2 linked regions of the Homo sapiens genome follow. The protein of the gene in region 2 interacts with the protein of the main gene of each other region in a biochemical or structural test. Each region holds a gene or a part of one and is shown on either strand. Other genes may lie near its edges.

Region 1 (3,831 bases), on a different chromosome or scaffold from region 2:
GTTTTACAAAACTGCAGTCATATGGTATGTATTTCCGAGTCCTAGAAATTGAAAATAGCATCTTTACATCTGGTGCAGTATAATCAGTTTCTAGGATTACAACAGACATATTTTAGAGTATATTAAATATAAAATCTCAATTGGGAAATGAAAACTTTAAACTTTAAATAAACATCTTGCTGAAGTTCAACTTTTTTTGCCACCAAATCTTTGTGATGACTTTTCGATGACAAAAAATTGTTCGTATTTTATGTGATAAAAGGCGTAACAAGTTATATTTCTTGAACGATTTCAAAGTATCCTTTCATCATAAACAAGAAAACATTGAATTGTAACAAATTCTTCTACTTGAAATTTCTTCTGTTTGAATAGAAAGAAAGAGTGCTTATTTTATAATTATTTCTGAGTGTAAGATGCTCACATTTGACACACATACAGTTTAAACAAAGCTGGATTTTCTGAAAATCTATAGGAAAAGCATTTATTTTCTTGTAATGGACATTAATGCCAGAAAAGTTTGCATTTCTGTTGAAATACAGATGATAAAGTATCCTACTATTGACTTATGAGATGACAGTGAGGAGGAGGAAGATGATAAAAATAGTTAAGCTCTGGGAAATATTCTAAGAACTTATGAGGTGAAGGTCAATGAGCTGTTTTTAGACCCATGTGCTTCATGGAGCCCCTCATCCAGAATGTGGTGGACAGTACCACTGGCTTTCAGTTGGTGCTTAAGGAAACTATACTTACTTATGCAGATGTTTAAATGAGTTAATTCATGTAAAGTTCTCACAAAAAGTTCCTGAGATATGGGAGGCACTCAACAGAAACAACCTGTATAATCAGTTGACTACATAGAGATAGAAACTTACTAGTGTTTCCTAAAGTGAACTACAAAGAGTAAACTAAACTAGGAGTTCTATTAAGAATTATATATTGATGATTTTAGTCACATGTGTAAATGTAAAATACTGAGTTCACTGAAGTTTCATAAATCCTATCCTTAAGAGACAGTTTCTGAACTGCCTAATTATTACTGTAATTATACTGGCCATTTAGATCTTTGGAAAATACATTTTCCTTATTTATAATTACAGTACTAGTATTTGTAAGGCACAGATCATTTAAGTTTGTCAATTTTTATAGTACCTAAATAACTTCCAAATTTTACTTGATTTTGTTTGTCTAAAAAAGCCTTGTATTTATTTGTAGTTATATTGTAGACAAAAAGAGAGCCAGTCCAGTAAGATGATCCTGGGGCCCCCATCACAATTAAATCCTGTAAGAAAAAAAAAACTATTATTATTTAAACTTTAATCTCACCACCCCAAACCTCCTCCAGATACACGATAGTGAAGAGAACATATTTTTATAATAATCAATTCCTGAAGTAGGAATATTCTGTGAAGTTAAAACATACTAGGAAAAAAAAAAAGCCAGAGAAGTTGGCTAATGGATTTCTAAAAGCGAAATCTCAGAGAAGAAACTCTGAAACTCTCATTCAATGCATTTATCAGTGGATTTCAAAAGTTGAAGGGACAAGTACTGAACGCTAGAGTAAGCTTTTGGGAGAAAGGCAATGTGGTTCCTATTAAAGAAAATCGTATGTGGGTAATTCATTAGTGCTAATTATGGAGATAATCATGTGTTGCCAAAGAATAAAAAGTAGACTTAATTTACTTCTATTTGCAAAGAACCCCTGACTAATAATGTTAGCTTAGGGAAAACATTTCTAATAATGTTAGCTTAGGGAAAAAAGTCCAATGGAATGTGGGGCATATTTTGTTATACAGAGGAAAATTTAGGAGAAGATTGGAATGAGCATGCCCTTGCCTGGTATAGTATGAACACTTTCAGCAATTAAATATCTTTAGCATATTTCTATACTCCTAAACAATCCTAAACTTAAAAAAAGTCAACTTAAACTGAAGAAAGCATTTTCTTTGTAAGCATTTTAATATAACTGTTAATATGTGCAGACACTGTCAACCCCAAACTTGATATAGTGCCTGATCTTCATGGAGTCAAAAAACATTCCTGAATTCACAGTGTGTTTTTAAGAAAACTGAGAGATTTGGGGTTGAGTACAACTGTGCCCTTTCATACATATCCTAGAATGTTAGAAAGAGAGTAAGAAATCTTGGGAATATTGTCTATCTGATTTAAGGGGATATTAAATTCTTAAATTTCCCAATTATCATAATTTAATGAAAAATATAGACTGATATTCTTCCTTTGCCCCTCAACTAGAAATTTAAAATAACATACTTGGGTTGATATTTTCAATACCTAAGTTAACAAGACAATTAACCATAGCTACTTTTGATTTTCATTAAATTGTTGATGAAAGAAATGTTCTTTAGTATAGATTTTCATTCATCTTATGCAGTATAGCCACCTAAATATTGATATTTTATTGAAATATATGTGGAATTTTGAGTGGCAAAAATTAAGTTGTAATACTCAAGTTTAAGAGACATGATGAAGATGTTACACAATTTTTACTTTAAAACATATCAGTCTTCCAAACCATGAGAAGAATTAAGATTCTATATGTAAACATTTATAGCAGCTATTTTTTGAACAATTACCTTTGTGTAAAAACTGGATATTCCAGCTTGACATGATGCAAAATTTTCTCCAAATTTTTTCACATAATCTAAAATGAAATATTAAAACAACTCAGAATTTTATCTTAAAGATAAAATCTCCATAATTTGTTTCTTAAATCCTTACAAAAATGTCCTTTAAGGTCTATAGTTTGTATTTTTTAAAAATAAAAACCAGTAACCTTGATATAACAAATCCCTTCCATATTAGTATTCAAAATATCCCTATGAAATGGCAATAAAAATATCTCCCTCTGCTTCTTCATAGGAAGCACACACAGCATATACTCAAAAAATTTTTGTCAAATGAGTAAGACAGAGGTAGGATTTGTGATTTTGAGCCCATGCTTTCTTTTTACTGTGTATATCTAAGGTGTACAACATCAGGTTTGATATGCGTATACATAGTGAAACAGTTACTACACTTTACATACCTCCTCACGGTCATCTTTTTTGTGCATTTAGAGTGAAATCTACTCTCTTGGCAAATTTCCAGTGCACAATTATTAACTCCAGTCCTCATGCTGTACATTAGATCTCTAGACTTATTCATCCTACACAAATGCCAACATCTTTCACCAACATCTTCCTATTCCTAACCCTCTCTCTGCTCACCTTCTTCTCTATGTATTTGACTTTTTTAGATTCCACAGATAGGTGAGATCATACAGTATTTGTCTTTCTGGGCCTAGCTTATTTCACTTAAAATAATGTCCTTCGGGGTCATCCATGTTGTCACAAAAGTCAGAATTTCCTTTTTTAAAGGCTGAATAATACTCCATTGTATATGTTTATGTATATATGTGTGTATATATACACCTCACACAATTCCTTATCCATTCATTCATCTGTCAATGGACACTAAGCTTGTTTCTGTAACTTGGCTATTGTGAATGCTGCTGCAATGAACATAAAAACGCAGATCTCTTTATGTGGTACTGATTTCATTTCCTTTGGATATATACCCAGAAGAGGGATTGCTGGACCATATGGTAGTTTTATTTTTAATTTGAGTAACTTCTCTACTGTTTTCTATAATGGCTGTACCAATTTACATTCCAGCCAACAGTGTGCAAGGGTTCCCTTTTCTTCACACCTTCGCCAACACTTGTTATCTCTTGCCTTTTTGATAATGACAATTCTAATAGGTGTGAAGTGATATTTCATAGTGGTTTGTAATTTGCATTTCCTTGATGATTGGTGATGTTAAGCACCTTTTCAT
Region 2 (3,831 bases):
CAGGCTGGTTATTTCCATGCTAAAATGTAGAAAGAAATGCTTTTATTTTTATATCAAATTGTTCTCCTGGTGTTTTAACACCATGTATTATTTTTTTTAAATATCAGAATGTGAATTAAGGATTCCCAGACAGTTTGAATAAAGACTTTGGTACTACAGTTTAAAAAGTCAAGGAACCACTTGCACTTGGTCTTCCTATTATTTTATGCCATTTATATCACATTGTAGCCAAATACAGGTGAGATGACTGGATTTAATATCTTATTTTATTGTTAAACATGTTCACTGAGATCAAACTTATCTGCATTCAAACACTGGGTTTCCTAAAATTTTTGAAATGTGTGCATGAACACAAACTATAGATCTTACTTGTCAATTTGCTCAAATACGCATCTGAAAAATCATCTTCATCCTAACAATTCAGTAACAAAGTCACATATGATGTCTGGGAAACCTCCTAATTGTAAGTCAATGAAAGCAAGGCAACTATCGAAAAATGAGCAAAGCAATAAATGTTAGCAAAATTAATGTTCCTATATAAACACAGATGTCAATATATCATTGATATATTAACACAGCCAAGCTAAATGTTGCTTATTTGAACTGAACTTGAGTATTAAATAATCTACATAAATCCTACAGGGAAAAGCAGACAGACATAAGAAGAGTTTTCAAATTTTAGTGGCTCTGCAGCCTCTATCAATACAGAGGAAATACTGTGGATCAAATGATAAGTAATGGCTCTTACCTTGGCTTTTAGCCACTTTACGTTGGCAAAAAAAGGGGGGGAAAAAGTAGACATTAATGCTAGGTAAGTTATATCCGATAGGACAGGTTTACATTTACAGTTACTCAATTCATGTTAATAAGCTTTTTTCCAGCCATGTTTCAACTACTTTGTAAAGAAAAAGAGATCCATACGTACTGGGGAAATACTCATGTGTTTCATGTATTTTTCAAAAGAATTATATTCATAAGGAAACCACCACTTAATTATTCCAATCTCATGCAGGCTCAATGATTTTTTAAGTCAGTATTTTGTCCTATGGAACTAATCCAACCGAGTAACAGATGATTTTAAAAATACGCTCATTTAAATACAAACACCATAACACATTAGATGTGAAGCTATTTTAACATATCGGTGCATGAGACCTAACACTTTACTGGATAATGAATGTCCAAGTATGAGTATTCATTACTTCAATGGTAGTATAGTTTAAAAAGTGATAAACTGCAAACATTAAAATTCAAAACCACAGATTGCTTCCAAAAATGAAAAAAGGACCTAGTATCTCGATGTTTAAAAACAAATTCATCATGCACAGTGATAACTTAGCCAGATTCTAACTAAGAAATAAACAAACAGGGTCTGGAAAACTCTCTCATTCCTAGCTTCTGAACCCCAATCCTGTGCAGGCCAACACTAATAGGAAGTTCTAAGTAGCTTTAGTTCTAAGTTTTCATCTGAGCCAGTTAAGTCAAAATTCAAAGTTGAAGAAAAGTTGTTTTGATCCTAAAGGCTACTTCTATTAAAGCTGACTAGCCTACACAACATGAAACAATGTGTAGTCCTAAAGCATCACTACTTGTACAATGCCACTAAAAAAAAATATCTTCAGGTTTTAGAGTCTAATTTTTTACAGATTTGGGGGCTTCAAGCTTTTTTTTTTTTTAAATAACATCTGACATTCTCAACAAGTAACTACCATTTTTCAGGTGGCCACAAGGCAGTATCAAAGGAAATCATCCAAAGGAGAGATTTGGTGTCTTTTGGATACATTCTCATTTATAGAAACTGTGCGAGAAATTTGGTACACTTCAATATTTGTTTAAAATGATACTGCTTACTTCTATCTGGAAACAACATCTGGTACCCTACCTAACCATGACATTTCACATCTAGAGAATAAATTTTGAGTATAACATTATTAGGATCCTTGAAGATAAAATACACTAATGTATACTTCAGTATCTGTATTATGATATATACTATACATGTATAGTATATACTTACATAGCAATGTATATCTTATAATGTATATACATAATACTAAATACTATCCTAAAATAACCAAGAAAATATTCTAAATATGTCCACATATCTTCCTTCATTTGTCATTTCAAGTGGATAAGAAACAAAAAAATTAGCATTCAAGTATAAGCTGGTCCCAAATGGAAAGAATAAAAGAAGAATTAGATTGGGAATGAAAATTCTACTTGAACTCTGTGCTACTATGCAATGGTATAAGCTTTAACCTCTTATGAAGTTCGGCCTCCTCTATTAAGTGTTATTAGACATGCAGATGTGTCAATGTTGGCAAGTGTTAGTAGGAAATAACCTCTACATCTTACACCTCAAAATACTAATATTTTTGTTAGAAATCTATAAAATTTTTTATTTAAATATCCCCAAAATATATCCAAAATGAAACTTTTTTATTTCCTTAAGATCTCATTTCAGGCTAGGCACGGTGGCTCACACCTGTAACTCCCAACACTTTGGGAGGCCAAGGCAGGTGGACTGCTTGAGCCCAAGAGTTTGAGACCAGCCTGGGCAACAAGGCGAAACCCCTTCTCTTGAAAAAAAAAAATAAAAAATTAGCCAGGCATAGTGGCGCACACCTGTAGTCCCAGCTACTTGGATGGCTGAGGAGGGAGGATCACTTGAGCCTAGAAAGTTGTGAGCTGTGATTGAGCTATTGCACTTCAGTGAGACCCTGTCTCTTTTTAAAAAAATCTCACTTTGTTTCCTTAACATTTACCTTTATGGATGAGTAATTTTACCATTTGCCTGGAATCTGTTTGAAATTCCCTTTGATTCCTCCCTATCTTCTAAGTACATCATAGTTTTGTATGTCATAGGCACTAAATGTCTAATGCTAATTCTTTTTTTTTTTTTGCTGGCTCTGTTGCCCAGGATGGAGTGCAGTGGCTCAATCTTGGCTCACTGCAACCTCTGCCTCCCGGGTTCAAGCGAGTCTCCTGCCTCAGCCTCCCAAGTAGCTGGGATTAAAACTGTGTGCCACCATGCTTGGCTAAATTTTGTATTTTTAGGAGACGGGGTTTCACCATGTTGGCCAGGCTGGTCTCGAACTCCTGGCCTCAAGTGATCCTCCCACCTGAGCCTACCAAAGTGCCAAGATTACAGGCATGAGCCACTGCACCCAGCCAAGGCCAATTCTTTCTTTGAAATGATTCTTAACTCACTCCTCTGCTTTATAAAATAAAAATTAAAAAAAAATCTTCCTATGTAAACATTATAAAGCTTTAGTTTCTACACTGTTTTAAAAAAATTAATCAGAAAGCCATTAGGCTGAGACCATTAGGCTGAGACGGCTCCAGCATTCTGGGTTCCTACTTAGGCAAACCAAAACACAATTAAAAGAAACTTAATCAGAAACCTCCAACTAACCTCTAACTAGGAACTTTACTAATCAGAAACCACAATTAACTTCTAACCAATCAAATATTTTGCTTGTCTTGCTTTCTTGAACTTCTACCTGCTTCATGTCTCCTGTGGTCTGAAGCTGCCCGATTCATGAATCACTGTAAACTAAAACTCCAAAAAAAGTAACACATCTAAGCTTATCTTTTAAGACCAATAATAAAATCTAACAACTCCTAGATCACATAATCTTTTGAAGCTTAAAAACAAGCACACAAACACACAGTAATCCAGTCATCCCTTGGTATATCAAGGAGGCTTGGTTCCAGGACCCCCATGGATACCAAAATCCAAGGATGCTCAAATCCCTCATATAAACTGGTGTAGTATACGCATATAACTAACACTACCCTCCAGTATACTTTACATCATCTCTCAATTAC

What was found.
Region 1: the proteins of ABI1 (region 2) and ITGA4 form a complex in vitro, tested with the Homo sapiens proteins (one study listed by IntAct).

The regions. Positions count from the first base shown.
Region 1 is NC_000002.12:181,477,585-181,481,415, reverse strand, and holds part of ITGA4 (integrin alpha-4 isoform 1 preproprotein), read right to left. Parts: intron 2,660-3,831; coding exon 2,592-2,659; intron 1,280-2,591; coding exon 1,150-1,279; intron 1-1,149. UniProt on the Homo sapiens protein: Integrins alpha-4/beta-1 (VLA-4) and alpha-4/beta-7 are receptors for fibronectin. They recognize one or more domains within the alternatively spliced CS-1 and CS-5 regions of fibronectin. They are also receptors for VCAM1.
Region 2 is NC_000010.11:26,770,327-26,774,157, forward strand, and holds part of ABI1 (abl interactor 1), read right to left. Parts: intron 764-3,831; coding exon 749-763; intron 20-748; coding exon 1-19. UniProt on the Homo sapiens protein: May act in negative regulation of cell growth and transformation by interacting with nonreceptor tyrosine kinases ABL1 and/or ABL2. May play a role in regulation of EGF-induced Erk pathway activation. Involved in cytoskeletal reorganization and EGFR signaling.